Regions from separate parts of the Homo sapiens genome. Here all the other regions are linked to region 1. A link means that fine-mapping ties the variant in region 1 to the expression of a gene that starts in the linked region. Tissue or cell type: whole blood. Region 1 holds a variant in brackets; each other region holds the start of a gene. Each region is shown on its reference strand, or each on the opposite one.

The links.
Region 2: IGSF23 starts here. The variant in region 1 is fine-mapped to the expression of IGSF23 in whole blood (TOPMed, PIP above 0.99).
Region 3: THBD starts here. The variant in region 1 is fine-mapped to the expression of THBD in whole blood (TOPMed, PIP above 0.99).
Region 4: it holds the start of DLEU7, and the variant in region 1 is fine-mapped to the expression of DLEU7 in whole blood (TOPMed, PIP above 0.99).
Region 5: LINC02975 starts here. The variant in region 1 is fine-mapped to the expression of LINC02975 in whole blood (TOPMed, PIP above 0.99).
Region 6: it holds the start of GRAMD1A, and the variant in region 1 is fine-mapped to the expression of GRAMD1A in whole blood (TOPMed, PIP above 0.99).
Region 7: GPX3 starts here. The variant in region 1 is fine-mapped to the expression of GPX3 in whole blood (TOPMed, PIP above 0.99).

What each region holds. Positions count from the first base shown.
Region 1 is chr7:50,340,603-50,344,602 of GRCh38, reverse strand. The region is part of intron 3 of IKZF1 (IKAROS family zinc finger 1); the gene reads right to left. Among named protein-coding and RNA genes, the nearest start is that of IKZF1, 38 kb to the right of the region's middle. The variant T/C (reference allele first, on the strand shown) is at 1,988.
Region 2 is chr19:44,611,543-44,615,618 of GRCh38, reverse strand. It overlaps IGSF23 (immunoglobulin superfamily member 23), which reads right to left and starts at 2,056. Exons shown (of 5, transcript NM_001205280.2): 1 at 1,849-2,056. The coding sequence starts at 1,973. RefSeq lists an enhancer at 143-644.
Region 3 is chr20:23,047,581-23,051,656 of GRCh38, reverse strand. THBD (thrombomodulin) reads left to right here and starts at 1,985. Exons shown (of 1, transcript NM_000361.3): 1 at 1,985-4,076. The coding sequence starts at 2,153. The coding sequence ends at 3,880.
Region 4 is chr13:50,841,321-50,845,396 of GRCh38, reverse strand. DLEU7 (deleted in lymphocytic leukemia 7) reads left to right here and starts at 1,705. Exons shown (of 2, transcript NM_001306135.2): 1 at 1,705-2,209. The coding sequence starts at 1,751. All of the region lies in intron 4 of DLEU7-AS1 (DLEU7 antisense RNA 1), which reads right to left. RefSeq lists an enhancer at 1,849-2,775.
Region 5 is chr9:129,280,179-129,284,254 of GRCh38, reverse strand. LINC02975 (long intergenic non-protein coding RNA 2975) reads right to left here and starts at 1,839. Exons shown (of 3, transcript NR_121587.1): 1 at 1,563-1,839; 2 at 1,197-1,325.
Region 6 is chr19:34,998,342-35,002,414 of GRCh38, reverse strand. It overlaps GRAMD1A (GRAM domain containing 1A), which reads right to left and starts at 2,092. Exons shown (of 20, transcript NM_020895.5): 1 at 1,929-2,092. The coding sequence starts at 1,936. RefSeq lists silencers at 1,478-1,607, 1,878-2,257 and an enhancer at 4,032-4,073.
Region 7 is chr5:151,018,437-151,022,512 of GRCh38, reverse strand. GPX3 (glutathione peroxidase 3) reads right to left here and starts at 1,922. Exons shown (of 5, transcript NM_002084.5): 1 at 1,772-1,922. The coding sequence starts at 1,858. RefSeq lists an enhancer at 1-477.

The DNA.
Region 1 (4,000 bases):
AACAGCTTATACATGATTGTACTTTTAGCACTGATGCAGAGGAGTGGAATAATTCTAGATGTGCTCAGATGAACTTAGGCAAATAGTTTGGAAGTTGTAAAATGTGTTTCCCAAAGCACAAAAAATAGAGAGGCAAAATGTGGATGACTTGCCCTGTGGGTTGGGGATGTGTGAAGAGAAGGAACCTGGCTTAGAAACACTGCTGATTGACTTCATAAAGGAGTCATTGGAAGGGACAAAGAAGTAAAGGAAGACAACATCAGCGGATGTGGCCTGGGTCATCTACATGTGAGGACAGTCACACACTAGACACAAGGCAAAAGGTGTGTCTTTTCTGACCTGGTCATGCAGATTAATGAGTTTTTGAAATACCACTTTACATGTCATATACTTAGGAAAAAATATGATTTCATTCAATGTATTTTGCAGATGAAGAAAGAGGAGGTAGGCCTGCCCCACACATCCCGATTCTGGTAAGGCAGAGAACTGAAGCTTAAACCCAGGACTTCTGCTTCAAAATCTTTTACAACAAGCTGGGCTCACCTTCTGGAGGATTTTTTGGGGGTTTGGGGAAAAAGAGGTGGGTAAATTTATAAGTCAGCTCAGAAAGCAATTCTCACGACTTCACAATTAAGCCTTATTTGTGAACAAAAAAACAGCATTCCTCAGGTTAAGTTAGCACTTTATTCAAAGGTCTAGGCTCTAAAAGGATTTTGGACTATTTCTAAAAGGAAAATAAAACCCAGACTCAAATATACAAAAGCAAGTGCTTGGGTCTCTGAAGGTAATCAAAACAGGGAGATGCAAAATAAATGTGAGTGATGAAAAAAATGCGGATTCTCAACGTTAGGTCTTCCAGGCATGTGTGCTGGTGCATTAGGCCTTCAGCCCATCACTGCTGCACTGTATTACACTCTAGGTACACTCAGTTAAAGACATGAAATGACCATAGCTAGAGACAGTAACATTGTAACCACAGCGTGTCTTCTCCTGGCACAAGCCTCTTGTACAAAGAAGTAGTTCTCCTTGTCCACAAATCTCAAACCAGGAAATCCCTAATTCATTTAATGATCAGGAAAATGCAAGAGATTTGTGTAGTTGTGACTCTTCCAGTTACTCCCCGCTGTACCATTATTTTAGGTTACCTATCACACAGGATGGTGTGCCTGATGGCACTGGCAGTCATTTCTCTATGTCTTGTAGAAAAGTTTACTCCTGGGAAAAACAATTTGGTCACTAGTCCTTGGACCTAAGTAACAGAATCTTGATGAAATGGTACCCATGATCAAATGTTAAAAGGAAGAAAGGGATGGAGAAAAGAAGAGAGGAAGGAAGGAAGGAGGAAAGGGAAAGAAAAAGGAGGAAGGGAGGGAGGGAGGGGAGGGGAAGGGAGACGAGGGGAAGGGAGACGAGGGGAAGGGAGGGAGGGTGGGGAGGGAAGGAGGGAAGAAAGAAAGGAAGGAAGAAAGAAAGGGAGGGAGGGAGGAAAGAAAAAAAGAGGAAAGAAGGAAGGAAAGAAAGGAGAAAGAGAAAGGAGGAAAATTAAAAAGAAAAAGGAAGAAAGGAAGGAAGGAAGAAGAAAGACAGGAAGGAAGGAAAAAGGAGGAAAGAAACAAAAGGGCAAGCAAACAAGAAAGGTCAAAAGACAGTAACGGCCCAATCAAAGCTTCCATGACGAATCTGTGCCTTTTTGGATCATGGTGTACTCAGGAAATGCAGCCGCCACAGGAGCACACGCTGTCTCCTGAACTGCAGGAAGAGCAGCGGTTAGCAGCAGGAGGTGTCCCTTTCACAGGAAGGCTGGGGTCTGGGCTGCACACTGCGGAGCAGATTCACATGCCAGGGTGGCCCCGCTTGGGCTATGAGGACATGGGTGCCAAGGTGGAACTGCTTTCTCAGGCTGCAGGCAGGCAGCTTGCTGCTTCTCTTTCTCTCTTTGAAAAAAAAAAAAAAAAGCCTTTCCTTCACCACCTCTCCTCGGTTGCTT[T/C]ATCAGGTTGCAAAAGCATCTTTTAGGAAGTATCAAGGGGCATCACTCTCCACAATTTTTGCAAAACAATTCCATAGTTGTGATGGTGTCTGTCTTTGCAGCTTAGTTTACTTACAGCCTGTCCTCAAGGGCGCTCTCTGGGAACCTGCCTCATGTCTATAAAGCAGCTACCTCATTTCAAAAATTTAAAGAGGACTTCCCAACTTAAAAAAGTTACCATAGAGTACATGGGAATACAATGAAGGGATGAAGACAAAAATTAAATGTCATGTTTTTCTACATTTAATTCAGCTACTTAGCTTTGAAAAACTGATTTGTTTGACATGTTCACATGTTGTTGTATTCTCGTTACTTTGTACTTAACCAAAATGCCTACAAGTACAAGACCTGTACTTAAAACACAGCTACATAAAATAAACCCAATTGATGTTAAAATTGGACTGGACCTAGATTTTCTTTACATCAAATGTGGGCAAAAAATGAAAGACTTAAAAAGCAGATGTTCACATACATTTGTGACAACACTGAGAAAATGTTTTGAAAAGCAAATTGATTTAAAAACTACTTTTAGAGAGTTGATAAATGACTAGTCTTTGGCTAACATTCAACAAGGGTTAATCTAAAAAGTTTTTTTTTTTTCCACAATATAATGACACACAGTTCTTTGGAGCTCTCAAGATCTGCCTGCCTGTCCAATAGGTAACCCCTAGCTGCATGTGACTCCTGAGCACTTGAAATGTGACCAACCCAAATTGAAATGTGTGGTGAAGATAAAAAAAAAATACATCCGGGGTTTCAAACACATAGTTCAAAAAGAGTAAAATATTTCATTAACAATTGCTTATATTGAGTACATACTTAAATAATATTTAAGCATACTGAATTAAGAAAATATATTCAAATTAATTTCACCTGTGTCATTTTTCTTTTTTAATGTGACTACTAAAAATGGACCAGCAAATATGCAGGTCAAATTATGTTCCCCTTGGACAGTGCTACGCTGGAATTTCTGATTTCTATATTTCACAAATAATGTTCCACAGATGCTAGTTATCATCCATCTGTAAAACCTCTGTCCCTCAAACAATGACTGTTCAACGTTGTTGCGTCTCATAAGGCATAAAGCTGGGCTAGGACTGTCTGCCTATGTCCTGATTAGAAAGACTCCATACAGCCTGGATACGGTGCCTCACATCTGTAATCCCAGCACTTTGGGAGGCTGAGGCAGGTGGATTACCTGAAGTCAGGAGTTCGAGACCAGCCTGGTCAACGTGGTGAAACCCCATCTCTATTAAAAATGCAAAAAATCAGCTGGGCATGGTGGCGGGCGTGTAATCCCAGCTGCTTGGGAGGCTGGGACAGGAGAATCACTTGAACCCAAGAGGTGGAGGCTGCAGTGAGCCAAGATCACACCACTGCACTCCAGCCTGGGCTGCAGAGTGAAACTCTGTCTAAAAAAAAAAAAAAAAAGACTCCATACCCAACATTTAAAATATGTGTGCAGGCACAGGGCAAGCAGATTTTAAGGGTATATTTTTAGGAGACTCCATCAATAATAAAACATGGTTATTGAAATGGGAAAAATTAACTAACACATATAAAACCTTAACAGAAATTTTTACACTTAAAGCTACAAAGTCAAATATAAAAATCAGTGTTGAGACCATATATAAGTAGCAATAATGCTTTAAAACTGCGAGTAAATGCAGCCTTTACAGTGACAAAAACAACTCCATTGTCATCTCAGGATGAAAGTCACTTCACTTAGATCACAGCATTCTCTACAGAACAATAATTTCACTAAGGATTACTTGCACCATAACACTAAGATTAAGTAAGGGTGGCTACACCTGGTAATAGTTAATTGTCACTAAACATTATGGACAGAGTAGAAATGCTTGGGGGGCACTGGCAGATTCTTAATTTTATTGCCACCAAGTTCAACTGGAGAGCACAGAGATATTGCAAAAGCAGTCAAAATTCTGCCAGGTTCCAAGAATCATAATAAAAATG
Region 2 (4,076 bases), not on the chromosome of region 1:
GGAGTTTCGCTCTTGTTGCTCAGGCTGGAGTGCAATGGCACCATCTCAGCTAACCGCAACCTCCGCCTCCTGGGTTCAAGCAATTCTCCTGCCTCAGCCTCCCAAGTAGCTGGGATTACAGGCATGCACCACCACGCCCAGCTAATTTTCTGTTTTTAGTAGAGACGGGGTTTCTCCATGTTGGTCAGGCTGGTCTTGAATTCCTGACCTCAGATGATCCGCCCGCCTTGGCCTCCCAAAGTGCTGGGATTACAGCACTTTGTAATCCCAGCCACTGCACCCGTGAGCCACTGCACCCGGCTCAGAACTGAACTTTATTTATTTATTTTTGAGACGGAGTCGTGCTCTGTCGCCCAGGCTGGAGTGCAGTGGCACGATCTTGGCTCACTGCAAGCTCCGCCTCCCGGGTTCACGCCATTCTCCTGCCTCAGCCTTCTGAGTAGCTGGGACTACAGGCGCCCGCCACCAGGCCTGGCTAATTTTTTGTATTTTTAGTAGAGACGGGGTTTCACCGTGTTAGCCAGGATGGTCTCGATCTCCTGACCTCGTGATCCGCCTGCCTCGGCCTCCCAAAGTGCTGGGATTACAGGTGTGAGTCACCGCGCCCAACTCAGAAGTGAACTTTTAAGACCTGGATAAGGAAGCAATTCATTCACTATCTGAGAGGCAGATGTGTGTGGTCTCTGGAAAGTGTGGTCTGGGAAGCCAGCCCATCTGGCTTCAAATCTTCAGTCTGCCACTTCCAAGTGTGTGACCTGGAGAGGGCACATGACCTCTCTGAACCTCAGTTTCCCCTTCTGTGAAATAGGGATCGTACAGCTCTGATCTCAAAGAGTTGTGATAAGAGGTAAATGTTACTATAGGAAAGCACTTAGAACGGGCTGACAGGCTGGGCGCAGTGGCTCACGCCTGTAATCCTGGCACTTGGGGAGGCCGAGGCAGGAGGATCGCTTGAGCCCAGGAGTTCGAGACTAGCCTGGGCAACATAGTAAGACCTCATCTCTACTAAAAATAAAAAATTAGCTGGGTTTGGTGGCGCATACCTATGGTCCCAGCTACGCAGGACGCTGAGGCAGGAGAACAGCTTCAGCCCAGCAGGTTGAAGCTGCAATGAGTCATTATCGGGCCACTGCACTGTAGCCTGGACAACAGAGCAAGACCTTGTCTCAAAACAAAACAAAACAAAAAAACAAAAACCCCAAACAGGCTGGTATATAGATCTATTCAGTTACAGTGACCTTCTATTACGGCTGTTATTATTTTATGATTGTTATTATTTATATGTATTATTACTAAGTTGCGGATTGCAGGGGTGAGACAGGGCATTCTGGTGGAAGGGGGCTGGGCTGGGGTCCCAAATTCTGATCCTGCCCCTTGCCAGCCCTGTGATCTTGGGTAGGTGACCTGTTCTCCTCTTTGCGCCTCACTTCCCTTCTTCCTAAAAGAAGCCAATAGGGTCATCTCTTGTGGCGGAGTGGCCTTCAAGAGTTCTCATGAGTTGGGTGCCTGAGCTGCATGGGCCTCAAACTGACAGGGTCAAAGCTCTGAGTGGGGGTGACTTGGACTCGTAAGGAGACACTCTCCTCCTTGTCCCTGGCCCGTGGTGAAGCCGCTGTCTCCAACGCACCTGTTAAAAGCAGCTTCCTCCAGGTAGGGGTGTGGCTGGAGCTGACGTCCAGAGGACCCCTCATCTCGTGTTCTGTCCAGGGACTGTGCAGAGAAGGTCTCCTCATCACACATGGGGTCTTCATAGACCTGTACAGTCGCGTCTGCAGCCCCGGCCTCACCCTGCAGGACCCTGCTCACGATGACCATGCCCTACCCTGGCCACTTCCCCACATGACTTACACCAAGTTGGCTGGGAAGTCACCTCCAGCCGCATCCTTCTCTAGCATCGGGTCAGTGGTGGTGGTGGGTGGGGACCAGGCTGGGACAGGGTTCCTGGGAAGGGGGCTCTGAGGTTTTGCTCTCATTCTCTCACCGTACAATCCCCGCCGGGAGATGGAGGGAGAAGCAGAATCGCCCGCTCCTATCACTCACATCAAAGGCAAGGAATGGCCAAAGGTCAACCTGGTAGGAGGTGACGGGGCTTTGGACTCTGAACCACAGCTTTTCTCCTCTGTAAAATGGAGGCGTTAATAATAGTGCCTGCCCCAGAGTCAGACAGGGCCGTGGACACAAGGTGCTTGGAGTAGTGCCTGGTCACGTAGTAGGCGCTCAACGAATGGCAGTCACTATGAAGTCAATGCTAATTATAATTTGGTGTCTAGGATGTCCTGGAGGCATGTTTAGAATCCCGTTATCAGGAGCTTGCTCAGACTATATCCTGAATTTTAGATTCTAGAAGGATAAGCTACACTAGCTACTTTTTCCTCACCCTTCTCACTCCCCAGGTCCATTCTTTCCTCCTCAAATTAATAATTATATTACTCAAACTAATAGCTGGTGTTTATTGAACACCTACTATATGCCGGACACAGCATTAACCTTGTAACAGGGTTGCCTAATTTGAATCCTCATAGCAACCTCGAGGGGTAGATATGAGCATCCCCATTTTCTCGTGGTGCACAGGGGCTAAGTAACTCACCTACCATCACACAACCGTTCACAGGGGCTTTCTGCCAGTTTTTGGAGGCACCAGCTCAGGGGCTTTGCATGAGCCGTTCCCTCTCCTTAGAACCTTACTCATGTAATCTCAAAGCTGACTGTATCTTATTATTTTGGCTTAATTCACACACATCACTCTATCAAAAAGGCCTTTCTTAATGCCTGCTGCAACTCAGTTCCCCACCTCTTTGCTAGCAAGCCACACTGTTTTGTTTTCTTTACATCATTTACCGCTATTTTAGATGATTTATTTATTTGTCCACTTGTATTATCTGTCTCTCCCTCCTTAGTCCCACCTCTCCGACTTGAATATCAGATCCAGGAGGGCAGGGATGTTGTCTGGCTTGTGGCTATGTCCCTAGTGACTAGAACAGTGCCTTGCATATAACAGGTGCTCAATACATGTTTTTGTTTTTGAGACGGGGTCTCACTCTGTCAGCCAGGCTGGAGTGCAGTGGCACGGTCATAGCTCACTGCAGCTTCAACCTTTTGGATTCAAGCAATAATCCTGCCTCAGTCTCCTGAGTAGCTGGGACTACAGTCTCACACTACCATTCCCAGCCAATTAAATTTTTTTTCTTTTTGTAGAAATAGAGTTTCACTATATTACCCAGGCTGGTCTCAAACTTCTGGGCTCAAGTGATCCTCCTGCCTCAGCCTCCCAGAGTGCTGGGATTACAGGCATGAACCACCTAGCCAGCCTACATGTTTTCTTTTTAGTGAATAAATGAATGAAGAGCAAGTGAGTGAAATGGGAGTGTTCAGACTTGAACTCAGATCTTTCTGACTTAGAAGCTCATGCTTTTCCCTCCCAGAGAGGTTCAGGTTCCACCCAGGGGCTAAGGTTCACCCATAAGTCTCTAATAATAGTCATTATCAGGTGACACAGTTATTTCTTTATTAGCATTTGCTAAAGTGCCTTTTTTATAGTTGGTCTGAAGGCCTCTGCTGGAGTGATTAGCTAGGTCAGGAGACCACTGTAGGAAAAAGTAAATATTTACGATGCAGTTAATAACCATTATGTTGTAAGGTTTCTGGGGTTTCTACCCAGCCAGTACTCTCTTGTATCCAGGTAACAGCACCTGGAGTTCTCTTTTGGAAACCAGCCTCCTCATGGCTCCAGGGAGGTGAGGGGCCCAGGACTGGCCAATCAGAGCACTTCATCCCCTGACAACAGTGATTTTTGGAGACCTGGGCGTGGCACTCAGAACAGGCCAAGGAGAAGCAATCTCTTACGGATTTTATTGGAACTCTGGGGAATAAAGCAATTTTTCTTTTTTCTGTTTTTAAATTTTTATTTATTTATTTAAAGACAGAGTCTTGCTGTGTTGCTCAAGCTGGAGTGCAGTGGTGTGATCTCTGCTCGCTGCAACTTCCACCTCTGGGGTTTAAGAGATTCTCATGCCTCAGCCTCCGGATTAGCTGGGATTACAGGCATGTGCCACCATGCCCAGCTAATTTTTTCATAT
Region 3 (4,076 bases), not on the chromosome of region 1:
CACATTCTGAGACCTTTCAGCAGTGCCCCAACGAGGTTCCTGCCCTTATCTGAAGCTCCACCCTCACCCCCATGGCGGCACCGCAGGCAGCCCTGCTTTTGCGTCCCGCGTAGGCAGGCTGTGCACCGGAGTCACGACCCCCTGATTCAGCCTAGGCAGCCACAGCTTGACTGCTCCCGCCGGACAAGCCCTACTGTGCTATCTGCCGCTCTTCCCTTCCTCTTCCCAGGGGGTCCGCGTCAGGGGAGGCGCAGCTGTGTGCATTCCGGGAGCTTCAGACCCCCGTGTCCAGCAGCTCCTTCGTTTCCTGGGTGCTGGGGCGGCCTTCCCAGCGAAGAGCTCAACTCAGCGGGACGTTTGGAGGCTCTCTGCCCCAAGGCGCTGGGGAGTGTGCGGCGGGACAGTCGTGCTTGCCTTTTTCACTTTCAGAGTGTCCACGCCCCACCCGTTTGGTCACTGCAGGTCAGTCCAGTCCAGCCCGGCCCACCCCACCGGTGCGTGTCTGTCGCACGTGGCAGACGCCATACTCTCTGTTCTTGTTTAAAGCCCAGGATCTACTGGGCCCTGGAGGCAAGAGGTGAACGCAGCGGAATCCACGCTGAGCTGCCCGGGAACGGAGCTTCCAACCCCAGAAGGAGGACTCTGTGCTCCTACACCTTAACCCTTTTTAGCCCGAAACTTCTCCAACTTCCTTGGCTTTGTTTAGAGCTCGACAGCGCCGCCCCCTGGCGCTCGTTGTGAGGACAGTAGAGGAGAGAGGCAAGGGTGTTTTTAAACAGTTTGCCTCTCACCATTATGGGGGCGACCCGAGGGGGAGACCCACTCTTCCGCATTCCCGGTAAGTGAACCACCGGAAGAGGTCGAAAGTGACGGATTCCCATGTCCTCCTCCAGCCCCCCCCCCACCCTGCCCATCCACAGGACGGTGGCTCTTCAGTGCCCTTTGCCGAGCAAGTGGCGTTTCTATGCACGTGGGTATCAATTCGGACTCTGGACGAAATGGAAACCTCCTTAGCCGACCCGGGTGGGATCAGCTGGGATCCTGCGCGCTCCCCTGGGGGGTTGCCAGCCACTCTGTTGGGGTGCAAGAAGCACCATCCTTCGGAAGCTGGGCCGAAACTGGCCAGGCTGACTCGCTCCCACGCGCCCGCCCCTACCCGGCGCCGCAGCAATTCACCTGCCACCGCCTCTGAGCCGGGTCCGGACTTCGGCGCCCTGACAGTGTCCCCGCGACTTCCCCACCCGATGAGATGGGGTCTGGCGTTGGCCAGTGCGTGTCCAGGGACTCGCGGGTCCCTGGCCAGCCATGGGGCAGAGGGCGCTGGTGTTAGGCCAGTCTTCCCCACCCTGCCCCGTCACCCCAGCCACACCCACTGTCCTGTGAGGCCAAGCGCGCTCCGCTGGTTTCCTGAGCCAGGCACCTTGGCCGCGGACAGGATCCAGCTGTCTCTCCTTGCGATCCTGTCTTCGGGGAAGTCCACGTCCTAGGCAGGTCCTCCCAAAGTGCCCTTGGTGCCGATCACCCCTCCCAGCGTCTTGCAGGTCCTGTGCACCACCTCCCCCACTCCCCATTCAAAGCCCTCTTCTCTGAAGTCTCCGGTTCCCAGAGCTCTTGCAATCCAGGCTTTCCTTGGAAGTGGCTGTAACATGTATGAAAAGAAAGAAAGGAGGACCAAGAGATGAAAGAGGGCTGCACGCGTGGGGGCCCGAGTGGTGGGCGGGGACAGTCGTCTTGTTACAGGGGTGCTGGCCTTCCCTGGCGCCTGCCCCTGTCGGCCCCGCCCGAGAACCTCCCTGCGCCAGGGCAGGGTTTACTCATCCCGGCGAGGTGATCCCATGCGCGAGGGCGGGCGCAAGGGCGGCCAGAGAACCCAGCAATCCGAGTATGCGGCATCAGCCCTTCCCACCAGGCACTTCCTTCCTTTTCCCGAACGTCCAGGGAGGGAGGGCCGGGCACTTATAAACTCGAGCCCTGGCCGATCCGCATGTCAGAGGCTGCCTCGCAGGGGCTGCGCGCAGCGGCAAGAAGTGTCTGGGCTGGGACGGACAGGAGAGGCTGTCGCCATCGGCGTCCTGTGCCCCTCTGCTCCGGCACGGCCCTGTCGCAGTGCCCGCGCTTTCCCCGGCGCCTGCACGCGGCGCGCCTGGGTAACATGCTTGGGGTCCTGGTCCTTGGCGCGCTGGCCCTGGCCGGCCTGGGGTTCCCCGCACCCGCAGAGCCGCAGCCGGGTGGCAGCCAGTGCGTCGAGCACGACTGCTTCGCGCTCTACCCGGGCCCCGCGACCTTCCTCAATGCCAGTCAGATCTGCGACGGACTGCGGGGCCACCTAATGACAGTGCGCTCCTCGGTGGCTGCCGATGTCATTTCCTTGCTACTGAACGGCGACGGCGGCGTTGGCCGCCGGCGCCTCTGGATCGGCCTGCAGCTGCCACCCGGCTGCGGCGACCCCAAGCGCCTCGGGCCCCTGCGCGGCTTCCAGTGGGTTACGGGAGACAACAACACCAGCTATAGCAGGTGGGCACGGCTCGACCTCAATGGGGCTCCCCTCTGCGGCCCGTTGTGCGTCGCTGTCTCCGCTGCTGAGGCCACTGTGCCCAGCGAGCCGATCTGGGAGGAGCAGCAGTGCGAAGTGAAGGCCGATGGCTTCCTCTGCGAGTTCCACTTCCCAGCCACCTGCAGGCCACTGGCTGTGGAGCCCGGCGCCGCGGCTGCCGCCGTCTCGATCACCTACGGCACCCCGTTCGCGGCCCGCGGAGCGGACTTCCAGGCGCTGCCGGTGGGCAGCTCCGCCGCGGTGGCTCCCCTCGGCTTACAGCTAATGTGCACCGCGCCGCCCGGAGCGGTCCAGGGGCACTGGGCCAGGGAGGCGCCGGGCGCTTGGGACTGCAGCGTGGAGAACGGCGGCTGCGAGCACGCGTGCAATGCGATCCCTGGGGCTCCCCGCTGCCAGTGCCCAGCCGGCGCCGCCCTGCAGGCAGACGGGCGCTCCTGCACCGCATCCGCGACGCAGTCCTGCAACGACCTCTGCGAGCACTTCTGCGTTCCCAACCCCGACCAGCCGGGCTCCTACTCGTGCATGTGCGAGACCGGCTACCGGCTGGCGGCCGACCAACACCGGTGCGAGGACGTGGATGACTGCATACTGGAGCCCAGTCCGTGTCCGCAGCGCTGTGTCAACACACAGGGTGGCTTCGAGTGCCACTGCTACCCTAACTACGACCTGGTGGACGGCGAGTGTGTGGAGCCCGTGGACCCGTGCTTCAGAGCCAACTGCGAGTACCAGTGCCAGCCCCTGAACCAAACTAGCTACCTCTGCGTCTGCGCCGAGGGCTTCGCGCCCATTCCCCACGAGCCGCACAGGTGCCAGATGTTTTGCAACCAGACTGCCTGTCCAGCCGACTGCGACCCCAACACCCAGGCTAGCTGTGAGTGCCCTGAAGGCTACATCCTGGACGACGGTTTCATCTGCACGGACATCGACGAGTGCGAAAACGGCGGCTTCTGCTCCGGGGTGTGCCACAACCTCCCCGGTACCTTCGAGTGCATCTGCGGGCCCGACTCGGCCCTTGCCCGCCACATTGGCACCGACTGTGACTCCGGCAAGGTGGACGGTGGCGACAGCGGCTCTGGCGAGCCCCCGCCCAGCCCGACGCCCGGCTCCACCTTGACTCCTCCGGCCGTGGGGCTCGTGCATTCGGGCTTGCTCATAGGCATCTCCATCGCGAGCCTGTGCCTGGTGGTGGCGCTTTTGGCGCTCCTCTGCCACCTGCGCAAGAAGCAGGGCGCCGCCAGGGCCAAGATGGAGTACAAGTGCGCGGCCCCTTCCAAGGAGGTAGTGCTGCAGCACGTGCGGACCGAGCGGACGCCGCAGAGACTCTGAGCGGCCTCCGTCCAGGAGCCTGGCTCCGTCCAGGAGCCTGTGCCTCCTCACCCCCAGCTTTGCTACCAAAGCACCTTAGCTGGCATTACAGCTGGAGAAGACCCTCCCCGCACCCCCCAAGCTGTTTTCTTCTATTCCATGGCTAACTGGCGAGGGGGTGATTAGAGGGAGGAGAATGAGCCTCGGCCTCTTCCGT
Region 4 (4,076 bases), not on the chromosome of region 1:
CCTGTGTCTAGTGATTTCAATTCTGCTCTTGGCTGCAATTCCAACTGTCAAGAAAGTTTTGCAGTCAGCCATTTGATAGTGGAAGGGTTAGCCCATGAAACTGAATTTCCTGTGTATCTGGAAAGAGAGGCAGCCCTAGAGATCTGACATGCTCTGTGAAAATTAGGGGTTCATTTTTGCTATTGCTGGTTAGTCTCTGCTGAACCTAATATATTTCAACATTTGAAGACTTTTTTTAAAAAGAAAATTTTTTTCTTTCTATTTTTTATTATGAACTTAAGTAACTTCATGGCAAAAAAATCTAATCAACATTAAACTATTTACTTCCCTCCAAAGTAATTTCCTCTCTGTCAATGCACAGACGTGCATTTTTACTTAGTTATAATTAGTGTGAACATACTCGTTTTTGTTTAAGAAAGGTTTTCTTTACCTTGGCATTCAGATTCGTTTTCATAGGCGAAGAAAGCACTGGGAAGGAGAAGGAACCTTTGCTGGCAAGTTGGGAGGATTATATGGGGTCATACTATCCCAGGGTTAAGGAAACCTTAAAGGACCCAACATCCCTCTCCATATCTCTTCTGATGATCCTTTTGTGCTCACAGACTAACCAGTGTGGCCTTTTCACTCAAAAGCCTCTCCAGATCTGCACAGCACCAAGGGTGCAGTCTGGCTCCCAAAGGAGTAATGCAATTCCATCCTCAGGTCTGCCAGGGCCCACCTGTCTGTCGTGGGCATGCACCATTGCCCTGGCTTTACTGGGCTGTTGGGTTGTCTAGTGGTTTTCCTTGCAGAAAGCAAGCAGGAACAATGCTGCTCCGGACTGGTTTTCCATACCACTCCTCTCAAATATCTTCTATTTTCTTAAGTGTGATCACACACCCATGGTTTCCAATCTATCAAAGCATAACATTGCTAGTCGCTTTTTTCTAAGTTAAGGAAGTAGCCATGTTGGGTTTAATTAAAAACAGCAACTATTTGTACAGCTGTCCCTAAGTTCATGGCTCATAAAAGGATTAACTTCAACCTTGCTGCCTAAGTCTTTTGGGAGTGTCACAAAAAAACATTTAGGCTTTTCTGGGCAGTGCCAGGCCTGGGCCTTGAGGCTTGCTGATGCTAGTTCAGCCACCAGGCTCTCGGTGCTCAAGTGGCACCCAGCAAAGCAGAGAAGAGCAGAACTTCCAGATACACAACTCCTCCTTCTTTTGTTTGGGGGATGCAAGGCCTTGAAGGCTGCTTCAACAAGTTTCTGAAAATTCCCCTCGGGTTGGGAAAGGCACAGTCTTCCTTTTGCAAGTTTTTCTAGAGCCCTTCGTACTTTTGCCCTAGAGTGGGTCTTTTGCACCCCCACCTCCCAGACCTCAGTGGTCATTGGCAGGCATCCTTCGAAGGAGGTGGGGGCGGGGTATCCCCGCCGATGGATGCGCCCGCACAAAGCAGCACGTTTTCTCATCAAAGCCCTGGAGAGAGGGAAGAAGCAACGCTCAGCATTTCGCTGATTTTCAAGTGCACACCGAGCAGCGCTTCAGGCAGCTTTGGGTCAGAACACGCCTGATTCGGACTTCAGGCGAAGGCAGAGGCCAGCACGGGTCACCGATTCAGAGCCGGGGGCGGGGCCGACCACACACGCTGTGAGACCCAGAGGCCGAGGAGCCGCGGGTTAGAAAATGTGACCTTGGCGACCCCAACGCCCCCGCCTCCCTCGCTGCTGCTCCACCTGCACGCGGAGCGCGCCGGGCCGCCAGCGGAGGCGATGGCCAGCCCTGCGCCCTTAGTGGCCTCCATCAGCCACCAAATGGTGGCTCTGCAGACCTTGCAGCTGCTGCAGCAGGAGTGGGGCTGGGGGGACGGTCCAGTCGCCCCCGGGAACCCGCGGGACCCAGACCACGTGTCCACCGCTCCAGCCCGTCGCTCAGGCCCGCCGCGGGCCCGGCCGGGGCCCGGGCGCGAGGAGCGGGGCGGGGGCGTGGGGACCAGGAGTCGGCGGACCGCGGCGCGGGCGAACTCCCCAGAGGAGGAGGTAGTGCGAGGCGCTGAGGGGGGCGCCGAGTTGCTGCCCTTCCCCCGGGACCGCGGGCCCTGCACCCTGGCCCAGATGGCGATGCGCAGCGCGCTGGCCCGCGTGGTGGACTCGACTTCGGAGCTGGTCAGCGTGGAGCAGACGCTGCTGGGGCCCCTCCAGCAGGAGCGGTCCTTTCCCATTCACCTGAAGGTGAGTCTGGCCCCCGCCATCCCCTCTGGCGTGCAGGGTAACCTCCCATCCTCCAAGGGTGGGGCTGCTGGGATGGCGATGGGTGGATCGCAGGATCCCAAACACTGCTGCCCACTGTGATTCAGCCCCAGTGGGAGAAGGAAGGGGGCGGGGGACACTCTGGGGACTCAGCAGGAGGGGCAGGGAGCCCCAGACCCACCTGAGGCCCGCCTGGCTGGCACAACCGAGATGTGGGGACTGCCTTGCCAAAACCTCCCCCTGGAACTCCTTCCTCTCTCACATAAATCAGCTTCCTGCGCTAGAAAGGCCCTTTCCACACGTGCAGCTTGTAGGGATAGAGGACAGCTCCCCCCACCCACTTTCCAAATTAATAACGCTTCCTCCAGAGCCTTAAATACACTTACTAAGTCCCTTCTGCCTTTTGTATGATGAAATCATCTACATTTATTTAAAGTTCCTTCACATTCATGAATCACTATTATTTTTTGCATAAATCCAATTCCCCACAGAGCTAAGGGGTCTTACAGAGTCAACCTACATTCTCATAAAGTGGGGTGAGAGCTGGGTGGGTCCCGGGTGTTAAAGCGTGAATACTAAATGCTAAACTCTTGCTAAGTCACCCAGCTCATATAGGTAGGGCACATTTCCTCTTAAGGTACCAAACTGTGTTAGCCAATTTAGCCCGGGAAGGGAGCAGCTGTCTCCCAGGCTGAGTGAGATTGCGGAAATCTGGGGGTCTGGGTTTCAGTCCTGGACTTGCCATTAACTAACCTAATTGGTTTAAGGTCACGAATCTCTCTGAGACATTCTGGCTTTCAGATTTTGACCAGGAGCATTGCTGTATTTTATTTCCCTGGGGCATCTAGCAGAAGGAGTTGGGGAGGGGTGATGAGGAGAGCTTAGAATATGTCTCAAGAGTTGCTATTCTGTACAAGCCAAGGTTTGGAAAAAGTTGCTATACATTAAGTTGCACTATACACTGTAAAAGATTTATTTAAAATCAAACATAATAAAGCCTATTATATACCCAAATAGGTATTGTTTCTCTACGTAGGGGTTTCTCAATCTCTGTACTATTCACATTTTGACCTGGCTAATTCTTTGTTGTCGGGGGTTGTCCTGTGTATTAGAGGATGTTTAGCAGCATCTCTCGCCTCTACCTGTTAGATGCCAGCAGCATATTCCTCGCCGCAAGTTGATACAGCCAAAAATGTCTCCAGACACTGCCAAAGGTGGCGGGGGCGGTGGGGTGGGAGGCAAGATGAGAAGCACTCCTACACTCACTTTAGAAAGTTAGAAAATGAAGCTGCATTTCACCAAATGCTCTCCAATGTAAGATGTACTTTTTTTTGGTATCACCAAAATTTTTTTTAATCCTGTCATTGAACTATGATACACCATTGATTATAAGTTACATGCTAATTTAAGGGATTTTTTTTTTTTTTTTTTTGAGACAAGGTCTGCCTGTGTTGCCAAGGCTGCAGTGTGGTAGCCATTCACAGGTGCGATCATAACACTACAGCCTCGAGCCCTGGGCTCAAGTGATCCTCCTGCCTCAGCCTCCTCAGTAGCTGCAACTACAAACCTGTACCACCACATCTGGCTGATTTCAGGGATTTTTAAAAAATGTGAATAAAAGTGCATTTTAAAATAGATGAAATATGAAGTGACTTGTGATGTCAGTAGCACATACAGGGCATAGGTAAGGCTGGCAAAAAGAGAGACTGACAATCAGTTTTACCTAAGGTGACCCTGGAAGGCTTCTCAGAGGAGGCAGCCTTTAAAAAAAAAATACATGTTATTTTCCAGACATTAAAGGGAAAAATATTTCAGGAGAATACTTTGGTTAAGGCCCAGCAGCACTGAA
Region 5 (4,076 bases), not on the chromosome of region 1:
TGAAACTGGGCAGGTCTGGGTTTGGCCACCCGTTCCCTGACTTGCTGGCTGTGTGGCCTTATGCAGGTCACTTGCCCTCTCTGAGCCTCAGCTTTCTCGCCTGTAAAGTGAGGGGCACGTGAGCTCCCGCCTTGCAGGGCTGTGTGTGTTGCGGGTGGTCTTGGAAGCCGCACTCAGTGTGGACAGGCAGCAGTGCTCCCATGCAGGTGCCACGTCAATATCATCACGTGGTTCCTGTTTAGGTCCTGCTCATTCCTCCAAGGGCCGAGGCAGCTCCGGGGGAATGGGGAGGGCGTGGCCTCTGCCCTGGTCCTAGCCGGGTCTGCGGCTGCTGGTGTCCACCTGTGGTTCTCAAAGGGTGGTCCTCCTGGCCAGCAGCATTGGCCTTGCCCAGGAACTTGTCAGAAATTCAGATTCTCTGGCCTGGCCAGTCCTGGGAATCAGAACCCCTGGGATGCAACCAGCCACCTGTGCTTTCACGAGGCCCCAGGGGCCTCTCGCAGGCACTGGTGTGAACCAGGAGATCCTGGAGGGTGGCGGCCCATCTTGTGCCCCCTACCCTCACTCCCATCACAGGGTCTGGTCCTCCCATTTCTCCAGTCACTCTGCACTAAACGCTGGACAATGGCCCCTAAGTACAGGCCCTCGTCTGCTAGTTAACAACTGGGGGGCCCAGGTTCTCCAAATGTGGTCCCCAGAGTACCCACACCAGACCACGAGGGAGCCTGACAAAATGCAAGCCCCTGAGTGCCCCCTAGACCGGCTGGGCATGGCTCCCCAAGAATTTGCTCTGGGGACACCCACAAGTCCCAGAACAGGGGGAGGAAAATGAAGGGCACAGGAAAAGCCGGGCCCTGGGGAGGAGATGGAGGAAAAGGGAAGTCAGACAAGATTCCCCAGTGCCAGTGACGGGCACCACTGCCTCCCCAGAGCCACCACAAGCCAGCCGCCCCTTGGCAGCAGGGGTCTGGGAGCCCTTGGCAGTTCAACCCTGTACGGACACCGTTTGAGGGGCTAGAAATAAGCCAGGATGAAATGTTATGAAATAATAATAATAGTCCCTTCTCTGGCCCACTGCAGAACCCTAGAAAGTAAGGGACTGGGGCCAACGGCAGCTGCAGTCAAGGTGCCTGCAGCTATGTGACCCCAGGGCCTAGCCCGCCCCTGCCTCCCGCCCTTCACTTAATTCCAAATACCTTTTCTCTTGTCAGCCGCAAGTCAGTGGGCTTCAAAGTCAGGCGGTGGCTCCCGTGACCCTTTGTGGGGAGGGCAGGGGTGGGCCCAGCTTCTGTGTGTTCTGCTCAGTGGGCCAGGAGGCCCCAGGCCTGCAACGAGAGGGAGGGAGGGAGCTCGGCCTGCCGGTCATTGCTCCGCACCTAGGCCCTTGCAGCTTGGAACGGACCAGCAGCCGGGAACAGCTGGTCCGATCCCACCGCCCTGCTAGGGAGGCTGCCCAAGGTACCCGGAGAGCCTTGGACTGGGGAGCTCAGGGCTGGATGAGCCAGAGCTCCAGGAGAGGAAGGCTGCGCTCACCTGAACTAAAAGTCGTGTTACAATCATACCTGCAGGTGTCAACCTCACTTTCGTTGCAGAGAGGAGGGTCTGGAATCACATGCTCCTCCAGGCAGCATTTTACAGAAAGCTGCCCTGACAGCCACGACGTACTCCCCCACTTCTACCTCTATCTCGGATTCTGTTGCAGAATGTGGCGAGGTATCACAGGGCTGCCAGCCACGGACAGGTTTGAGGGGACCGGAGTAGGGGGTTGCAGGGACGAGCTGGCAGGATCCAAATCCCTCCCGTCAGATGTGTCTCCACCCACAGCTTCCTTTTCCATTGGAGCAAACATAACAAAACAAGTGTCAACTACACTTCCTGATTCCTGAGTTACGAAAAGCCAGTGCCACCCACAGGTCCGTCCACCCCCTCCTCTTGACCCGGCCCTTCCAGTGGCACCTTATTCTGTTATTTGCTCTCTATTTTTCTTTAAAAGCATTCACTGCTATTACTTAGGTAAATGCATCCATAAGGGAACTTTATGTGACTACTGTTAGGTGGAAAAAAAACTAAGATCATGGGCCATAAATAGAAGGTAAAAGTAAAAATAAATTACAATTAAAATAAGCAATGTTAGGAAATTCTAGCTGGCTATTGTTGCCTGCCGATGGCATTTTGATAGAAAAGCGTTGGGGAGTTGCAAGCTTCCCCTCCAGGGGACCAGAGGGCTGAGACAGAGAAGGGAATCACCTTTGTGTGGTATGAGGCTGTGTGATCCCTGACGTCACTGTCTCCTAGGTCACCGAGGGTGCCCACCCCACACTGGGGAAACACTGACCTGAGGGGCACCCCTAAGCCAGTGAACCAGGGGACAGGGCTCCTTGCGAGGCAAGGACCAGATGGCATTTAACGCTGATAGGCACTATCATGACCTCCTGGGCATGAAACAGGTACCTCCCTGGTCCTTTTTCCAGAAGAGGTTGCAGAAGCCCTCTGGACAGGCCTGGCTCATGTCCTCCTGCTGGAGCGGGCTGACATAGCCCTCAGCCCTCCACTCCCAGCGTGGCCCGTCCGCTCTCCACAGATGTGCCACGCTTTCTCTAGGGTCCCCGCCCTGGGATTCCCTCCCGACCTGGCACATCTCAGTCAACCCCACCTGCCTTCCAGGTCCCCTCCGCCAGCCCTCGGCGGCCTCTCTGGGGCAGGACAGCATCCTCCTGAGGACCATGATGTCTGTAGTACTGTTCTGCCATCCGGAACTTCTCGTAAGTGGGACCCCACTGACCACCCTCTCGATTTCTAAGTGAAGCCAGAGAGTTGGATCACAATTATCCCCTGTGCCAATAATTTCCTTTATGAGAAATGCAGTTGTAAGTCTTAGAAAGGGACATGTGAATTAAAACAGGCAGTCACGCAGAACAAGGGGGAGGGAACGCATGAGGGTGCCAGGAGGTCCCCAAATTGTCCTCCAGGTGGAGACCAGCTGGGATGGCGGTGACGTCTCACCTGCACCAGGACTGGCAGCTCTGTCACATCCCCACAACACAGGGCCCTGGCAGGCCTCACTCTGCACTGGCTGGCTGTATCTGGGGCACAGACACACGGGCTGGTGGCGTATGTCACAGGTGGCAAATGTGTCACTTGGCCTCAAGACTCCCTGCATGCAGTGGAGACAGTGAGGCCTCTGTCCACACAGGCCCCAGCTGGGCCATGACCCGCTCTTGAGGCCCATCCCTTACCCTGACCTCACAGCTTCCCTGGTTGCCTTCCAGGGTCAGCAGAGCAGCCTGGATGCACTCAGAAGCCCCGGGGGACTCAGGCCACTCTCCCTGAGACCCAAGAGCATCCCCCTGCAGCTTGTGATGAGCCCTGGGTAGGGAAAAGGTGACACAAGGGGGCTCATAGCCACCACCAGGTCCAGCTGGGCCAGGGCACTCATCCCAGTCTATGGGGAGAGTCCACCTTGGCTCCAGCTGGCAGGATGAATTAGGAAATGAGAGCCAGCCCTTTGCAGCCTAGAGCAGTGGCTCAGGCAGGGCCTGGCCAGGGGCTGTGGGCAGGAGTGTCTGAGGCTGGAGGAGCAGCCCCCAGGCATCCCATCGCACTCCCTCAGGGCATCCGAGGAATCCCACCTTGACTCCTCTCGGTCTTAGCTCCAAAGCCACGTCCAAGCAGGTGAAACAGGAAGCCCCCTCCCCAAGGGGCTTTCTAGGGCAGAATGCCTGAAAGATCAGGGCAATCACCACAAACACAGATGGAAATCGGAAAGCCGGCTCCTAAAACATCTCAGGGCTCCACGCTAACACGGAGACAGGAGAGGACCACGGGTGGGGCAGGGGTTTTAATGCTGCCCAGATCTGGGTGCAAGTCTCAGTGCCACCCCGTGCCAGCCATGTGGCTTTCAGCAAGTGACTTCCCTTCTGTGAGCCTGTTTCTGCATCTGCCAAATAGGCCTGATGATAGCACTGACCAAGCACAGGCTTTCTGTGAATTTTCATACATTTGTATGGAGGGTGCACAATACCTGGGATGTATAGATGAAATTTGTATAGGTGGTCGCAGTTATTACTATTATTATT
Region 6 (4,073 bases), not on the chromosome of region 1:
AAAGAGAAAAAGGAAAAGAAAAAGTAAAGTGGCAAGGGGTGGAGGTGTCAGTGGCTGTAGCTGGTGGAGAGCCCTGATGCTCACAGTCAAGCAGGACTTGGGAATAATGCAGCCGAGCAGGGCGTGGATCTCGAGGACACAGTGGCCAGGTAGTGGAATAATGCGTGGCACATGCTATACTAACTGTAACAGGTGGACAACGTCAGTTATCATTATTGCCTCCAAAGTGCCCTGGGTACTCCCAGGGTCTTAGAAGGGAGGGTTCCAAGCCTACAGAGAGCCACAAGGGGTCTCACACTGTTCACACACACACAAAACCACAGAGGGTCTCAGCTGTACACAGAGAGGCCTAGGCACCACTCAATACTGTCACAAAGGAATACACAAGGGAATGTTCACACAAAGATGGAATCAAATTAAGTTACAGCCACACTCACAGAGCCCCAGACACACAACAATGTCACAAATGTAACTTACATTGGCACACAGAGCTAAATGAGAGTTTCAAGCCAGGCGCGATGGCTTAAGCCTGTAATCCCAGCACTTTGGGAGGCCGAGGTGGGTGGATCACCTGAGGTCAGGAGTTCGAGATCAGCCTGGCCAACATGGTGAAACCCCATCTCTACTAAAAATACAAAACTTAGCCAGGCGTGGTGGCACACGCCTGTAATCCCAGCTACTCAGGAGGCTGAGGCAGGAGAATTGCTTGAACCCAGCAGGAGGAGGTTGCAGTGGGCCGAGATCGTGCCACTGCACTCTAGCCTGGGCGACAGAGCCAGACTCTATTTCAAAAGAAAAAAAAAAAAAGAAGAGCGTTTCAGAGCTAAATTACAGGCATATGCAGGCACAGAGGGTCATGGTAGAACCCAGAGCCCCAGGCACACTTGTACACACACCACTAAGTCACAATGGGACGCACACTGGTAACTTACAGCAACGCTTGGAGCTACAGATAGAATTAATGGTAAAACACACACAGCCCAAGAAGGATCAGAGCTGCTACACACGGTAACTCCAGACACATGTACAAACACTCCAACGTCACACTCAGACACACAGGGGTAATTTATATTTGCACAGGGAGCTACAGATGGAATGAGACACAACACGCACACAACCAGCTGCTCACAGCCACAGATTTGGAGCCCCAGACACACACAGGTAACTTACAGTGACACACAGAGCCGCGGTCAGAATTAGTGGTTAAGTTACACGCAGGAACTCTATCAGAGGCCCAAAGCTGCTGCAGGCTAGCAGCCCCAGACACACGTACACACACTTGCAAGACAATTCACAGTCGGAAGCACATGCGCCCACCTGGACCGGAAGGGGAGTAAGAAGTCAATTCCGAGCACACAGGACCCCCCGCCCTCCATGACCTCAAGCACGCGGTCCTGGAGAGACGCAGGAAGCCCCCACCCCCGGCAGCCCCGAGACCCGCAACAGCCAAGGACGGTGGGAGGGGGCCCAGGCAGGAGGGGGCTGCCTACTCCCGGCGCGCCCAGGGCTCCGCGGCCTGTGGGCCTGGGCTGGTCCCGATCCTGTCTCCATCCCAGGCCGGAGCCCCAGTTCGGCCTCGCGCTCACCCCTGGCTTACCAGGCAGGGGGTTGCCAGGCCTGAGGGCCCTCCCCGCCAGATGAACCCGCGGGCCCCCAGCCAAACCCCGCAACCCAGTGCGTCGCGGGCCGGCAGTGGCGACCCAGACCCCGGGCCCTGCCCTGCGTCCGCGCCCCACTCCCCAGCTGCACCCCTCGCCCGGGGGCCCCCTGCCCCGCCCCCACCCCGATCGCCCCGGCCAGAGCCATGTGCAGAGGCCCCCGACCTCTGCAGCGGCCGCTCCGCCCCCTCCCCAAGCCCGCGGCGCCCCCTCCCTCCGGTGGCCTCCCCCGCGCGCCCGGTCCCTGAGCTCTAGTCGCCCGGTCCTTACTCGAACATGGATGCGGCGCGGTGGGCGCGCCCCGGGCGCAGGGCAGGGCAGGGCAGGGCAGGGCTGGGCTGCGCGGGGCTGGGCTGCGCTGGGCGTCCCCGCAGGGCACCGGCCTGGCCTTCCGCGGCCGCCGCCCCCACCCGACCCAACCGCCCGCACAAAAGGCCGGAGCCGCCGGAGGCCGCCGCGGCGTCAGCGACACCCCCTTCCTTCCCCCGCCCCGCCGCGTCACGGCGCCGCCCCCAGCCCGGGAGGGAAGGCGGGGAGGGGCCGCAGAGGCCTAGAAGGAGGGAGAAGCCGGGGAGAGAGGGACTGGACAGAGAAGGGAAAGCAGAGGGGCAGAGAGACAGAGAAGGAAACAAAGAGACTTTATTAAAACCAAACATCGTGGAGGCAGCTGCCTGCCCGCAGGTTGGGGAGCCCCCTCCCCTAGTACCTAGAAAAGGGTCCCTAGCAACTACTATGCCCCTGGCCAGAAGCTCCTGGACCTCCCAGGGAGGAACCTGAGAGCCGGGGCGAAGGTGGGGGAGGACTGGAGATGCTGGGAAACCGAGGTGTATGTATGGGGGAGGGGGCCTGAAGCTGGCGGGAAGGGGTGGGGCCGGTTGGCCGCCTCCTCCTTCCCTCTCCCAGTCTCTGAGCCCGGGTTCCTGGTCCCAGGAGGTCCGGTGCCTCCGTTTCTAGGGACTTCCCAGTTTTGGTCAGCCAGGCCAAGTACCAAGTCAGAATCCAGCCTCCCTGGCTCTTATCTGTGCTGAGACCTTGCGCTCATCACCCCAGTGCTGGGAGTCCCACTAACTCGGTGGTAAGGGCTTTTCCCGGGGACAGCGCAGGAACGGGCAAAATCAGTCCTTTTACGGAAGGAGAAGCCCGGCCTCTAAGATGGGAAGTGACTTGTTGGGGTCACCTGGTAGGTAGGCGGCAGAGTTGGATTCGATCCTGCTCTGACGCCATAACCTGCGTCCCCCCTCCCCCGCCCCGTCTGCAAGAGGTCAGAGTCAGGTGGTGTCCTGGACTCCTGGCCCAACCACACAGAAATGCGAGTCCCACCTCACAGCTCCGGGGCTGTGGCTCCCCAGCGCTCTCCAGGGTACGCTGTCCCCGCCTCTTTTGAAAAAACTCCCTTCCCAACCCTCTCCATCAACCCTTCCCCTCCTCCTGCAAAAGAAGCCCACCTGACTTCTCCATTTTGATGAATGGCAGGCCCAGAACTTCAGAGTCTTTTCTGACCCTCTCTTTTCCTTCACACCACATCCAATCCGTCACAAACTGTGGGCTCCACGTATAAAATCAATCGCTCCATTCTAAACTCTTCTTCCTCCGCTGCCCACGCCCTGGCCCAGCCTCCATCCTCTCCTGCCTGATCTCCCTGCTCCCATCCCTGCCCCTACTGTCTGTTCTCACCTGCAGCCAGAGAGAGCCTGGGACCACCTGAGTCAGTTAACTACCCTCCTGGCTCAGAGCCCTGCCCCAGCTGTACCTCACTCCAGGTAAAAGCAAAGTCCTCACCTTGGCACCCAAGGCCCCTGTCAGCTCTCTGACTTCAGCTCCTCATCTCCCCCTGGCTCACACCCCCCATCCAGCCTACCCGCTGTTCTTCTAACTCACCAGGCACCTTCCTGCCTCCTACCCCAAGACCTTTGCACTGGTTATTCCCTCTGCATGGACAGCACCCCCCCTATCGCCGTGCCCTACCTCTCATGCTAACCCCCACCTCTAAAACCCCCATCCACCATCTGACATTTGCTGCCTCCCACCGGCCAATGGAAGAGAGGCCCTCCTCCCACCACCTTCCTCTGTCCAACTGATCTCTTTAGATTTCTCTTTGGTCTGTTTCTTCTAGTGTAATGCTTTTAGTTTTTTAATTAAATAATATTTATTTCAGGTCAGGCGCGTTGGGTCACGCCTGTAATCCCAGCACTTTGGGAGGCCAAGGAGGGTGGATCACCTATCAGGAGTTCGAGACCAGCCTGGCCAACAGAGTGAAACCCCATCTCTATCAAAAATACAAAAAAATTAGCCAGGTGTAGTGGCTTGCACCTGTAATCCCAGCTACCCAGGAAGCTGAGGCAGGAGAATTGCTTGAACCCGGGAGGTGGAAGTTGCAGTGAGCCAGGATCGCACCACTGCGCTCCAGCCTGGACA
Region 7 (4,076 bases), not on the chromosome of region 1:
CTAACCCAGAGCTAAGACATCTGAACTCTAAGAACTTGGGAGCAGAGATGGGCATGCCCAGGCTTTCATTAGCCAGCAAGTCCTGACTGGTTGTATGTGATATGATCACACCTCACCCTAAAACTTTTCTAGACCATCCCCATCCTATTCTCTCTGAGTCCATTTATCCTTCCCCAGAGTGCTGCAGAGAAGACACAGCTATGATGAGTTATTCATGGAGTCCACGTTCTCCCCACTAGCCTTCTTGAGGCAGGGCCCAATTGTATCTTCTTTGACCTTTCCAAAACTGAAGGTTGGGACTGACTCCACGGTGCTGGCCTGTCTATGGCCCACCCCAAACCTCAATGTTGAAAATCGATCCCATTCCTGACCTGGAAAATGCCTTCTGAGTTGGGGATTATGAACAGGGATGGATAAAAAGGAGGGGACTTGGACGAAGTGGCTTCACATCCATTTAGACTGACTCCAAGGAGAGGCTGATTAATCGGATTTAGGCTGAGGACCGAAAAGGGGTGAGTAACATGGAAGGAACCCTGTGCTTCCAATGGGCTTCCTGAGAAGTGGACAGAATTTTGGAAACGGAATCCTAGACTCATAAGAACTTAATTAAAGTGAAGACCCAGAGGATTTTAGAAACAAAAGCTCAGAGCTTGCAAAAATGTGAGTTATGCATGTTGGGAAGTTGGAGACAGAAATCGCTCGCTTTGAGTCTATCCCTACACCTGGCTTCTGCCTCCTTCCCCACCCACTCCCACTCCCTGGGTAGAGGAGAGGTCTACAGAGCCCACCCCAGTACATACTGTCAAAGGAGATAAGCATGCTGGGTCATCCCACTCCTGGCCTCAGTATCCCCACTCCAGGTGTGGGCCACACACCTGCTGGAAATAGACTGAGGCTCTAGAGAATTCTACCTCTTCTTCTGAATTAGCAGTCCCCAGCTTTCTCCAACTACCAGGTTTCCTCAGGCTAATGAGGACAGTGGGTCCTGGGTAGTGAGGCTGCCCCAGGGGAGGAAATTTCAGAGAACAGCTTGTGGATTTTTCAGCTTCTCCAAGCATCCCCTCTGAGGCCCTCAGCTTCATTGTGCCCCATGCACTCCCACCCCCAAACTCTCCCCTGCAGATGGAGAAACGGGGGTCCAGGAGCAGGTAAGGACTCAGGGTCCTGAGTGTTCTGCACTGTCACTCCAGAGCTCTTTCTAGCACAGATCTCTGCCTCTTCTACCAATGCCCTGAATCCAAGTGGCCATTTCTACCTGCCTGTATCATTCTTGGGGTAGAAGAGCCCCCCACAGCAGTTCTTCAGGACCAGGACCACCCAGCTGCCTCTCTCCTTTCTCCTTGTCTCTCTCCCTGGGAACTTGCACAGCCCACCCAGACGCTGGGCATTTTTTTCTGTGACGCCCTCCCTCTTAGGCCCTACTGAAGGGGAGCAGCTCAGGCACGGAGGTGACATAGATGTAGCAAGGCGACCCTCGAGGTGGCAGTGGGGAGAAAGTGCGAGCTCGGGGAGAGAGACCTTCCTCCCTTAGTCATTCTGCCCGCCTGAAGCACCAGGTCTCGGCTCTCCAACAGATGGAACTACGAGACGACGACGGTCGGGGGCGGGGTCCCGGCGGCGGAGGGGGCGGCAAAAGGGGTTCAGGAGGTCTCTCGCACCTGGGGATTGCCCATCTGGCGGGGAGCCTGGGAAAAGGGGTGCATTGCACTGAGCGCTGGACACCGAGGGGCTAGGTTTTTTCTCCCGGCCCCCGGCCCGGAGGCTCACTCACCTTCGACTTCTCTTGTCCCCGGCTCTGCGAGACGAAGCCGGCCAGGAGCAGGGAAAGCAGGCAGGACGCCTGCAGCAGCCGGGCCATGGCGGGGTGGGGGCACACTCAGGGTCGCCTGAGCCGCTGCCTGATCCCTGGCCACCGTCCGTCTGAGGTGTCCGGCGCTCCCAGCCACCTTTCAAGCCCTCGGGTGTGACCAATCCGCGGCCAAGCCGAGACCCTTGCAGCCAATCGCTAGGCGGCTGGGATTTCAGGGGCGGGCGCGACTTGCCCTCAGCTCCCCACCTCCCCGTCCCGGGGCGACAGTGACATAAGCAAATCTGGGCAGAGAGGTGGAAGTCAGGTCCCTGTGGACGTGGGAGGCGGTCCCTTCCTCTTTTGGCTCCAAAGTGCGAAAGGAGGCAGACACAGCGGTCTCCATTACAGCCAGGGCAAGGGGGCTAATAGCTCCCTAGAACTGATGGAAGTCTCCATTCTGGGAAGCATTTCTTATTCCTATCGAGGTTTTAAAAACACCTGGCGATGGTCCTCTGGAAATTGAGGGTTTAAAATTTCAGCAAGAGCTGAAGTTAAACTTCCAGAAACATTTACTATATATAGGTTTAGTGCTTAAGAAACAAAGAGTGGGTGTCCTGGGATTTTGAAAACCCCATTCTGGGTAGGGCATTAGGACTGTAGGGACAGAGAAGGTGGGGTGCCTTTCCTCCCCATCATAAGGATCACAGCTGACATGCCTGTAGAAAAAGGTTAGCAAGAGAAAAGCATAACGATTTATTTAATTAAAGTTTTCTGTGACATGAGAGTCTTCAGAAATGAAGACCCAAAGACTCAAGGAAAACTCTATTTTTAGGCTTAGATTCTATGAAGACCATGGAAATGCGCAGAAATGTGAGTGGGGAAAAAGGGAATGGTCTAATAGTAATAAACTGAGTGGGAAACCCAGCAAGGCTTGTCTGTTCGTATTCTTCTTGGCCTATCTGTGGCCAAACCACCTGGCTTAGAAGCAGAAAATAAATTTGCTCCCTGTGTAGTCTTTAACATGTTGCAGTTACTCTCTGGGCCTCAGTTTCCTCAGCTATGTAATGATGGGATTGATTAGTGATCTCCAGTGCCCTTCTGGCTCTGGCTAGATGACTTGTTTCTAAAGTAAGTGACAGACGGAGACCAGGAGTCCTTTGAGAATAGGGCCCATAATCACCACCTGGCACAGGGCCTAGCACACAAGAGATGTAAAGTATTTGCTGACTTAATCATTCATTACATTAAAAAAACAAAATCTCCATGGAACACTTAGGATCAGACCAGGCAGTTCTAGGGCTGGGCTGTCTAGGTATGATCCCGTTCACAGATGGGGAATGTGATGGAATCAGTCTCAAATCTCTCTGACCACCAGAGTCAACTGGGAAGCCTTTAATACAGATTCCTGGACCCCACTTTGGAATCACTGCATTAGAATCTCTAGGGGCAGAAGCTGAAAATCTGTCTTCAGACATGTTCTAAGGTTATTGTGAGGCAGTTGGCCTGGCTGTAGCCTTGGTAGTGTGAGTCCTAGGATTAAGTGCCTTCTGGAACTTTCTTCTGACCAAGAAATGCCTTGAGAAACCATACCTTTACTATGATTAAAGGTATTAACATCCCCCTGGGAATTTGGAAGATGTCTCTCAAGTTTTGCATTCTCTACGAAGTCTTCCCACCTCAAACCACAGCCTGTTGAAGTGGAAGGAACCACAGAGGCCAGGAAGTCTTTAGCTGAGTTAAAGCCTGGGAGCATATGAACAATGGCTGACACACAGTAAGTGCTCAATACGTTTTATTCAACCACCTCATTTCCCTGAAGCCTAGAGATGAGGAGCAATTTATCCAAGTTCCCATAACCAACTGATGGCAGGGAGGGAACCAGAATCCAGGTCTCTAGACTCAGTCTCAGGCCCTCTCCATGTTGTTCTGTTGTCTTTTAAGGTTCGTATTTACCCTAAAATATAAACATCTGTGTGCACATCAGTTTGTCAGAAATCCATTGTTCATTAGTATCAGTAGGCATCTAGTGACCCTCAAAATAGGCACCTAGCAACATGTTAACACCATGAGAGATGCTAAAGAGTTGTCTAAAAGCCAAAGTCCCTGCTCTCAAAGGTGTTTCCAGCAGATACCAGCAGGGTGAGGGAAGGGAAGGCACCTAGGGTCACACAAGTGCAGGCTGGCACCTGGCAGCGGGCATCTCTCTACATTTTGCACCCTCTATGTCTCACTTGTCTCACCTTAATCCCAGCCCTGGTGGTCTATTTCTTTAGGGGAGACAAGAAGG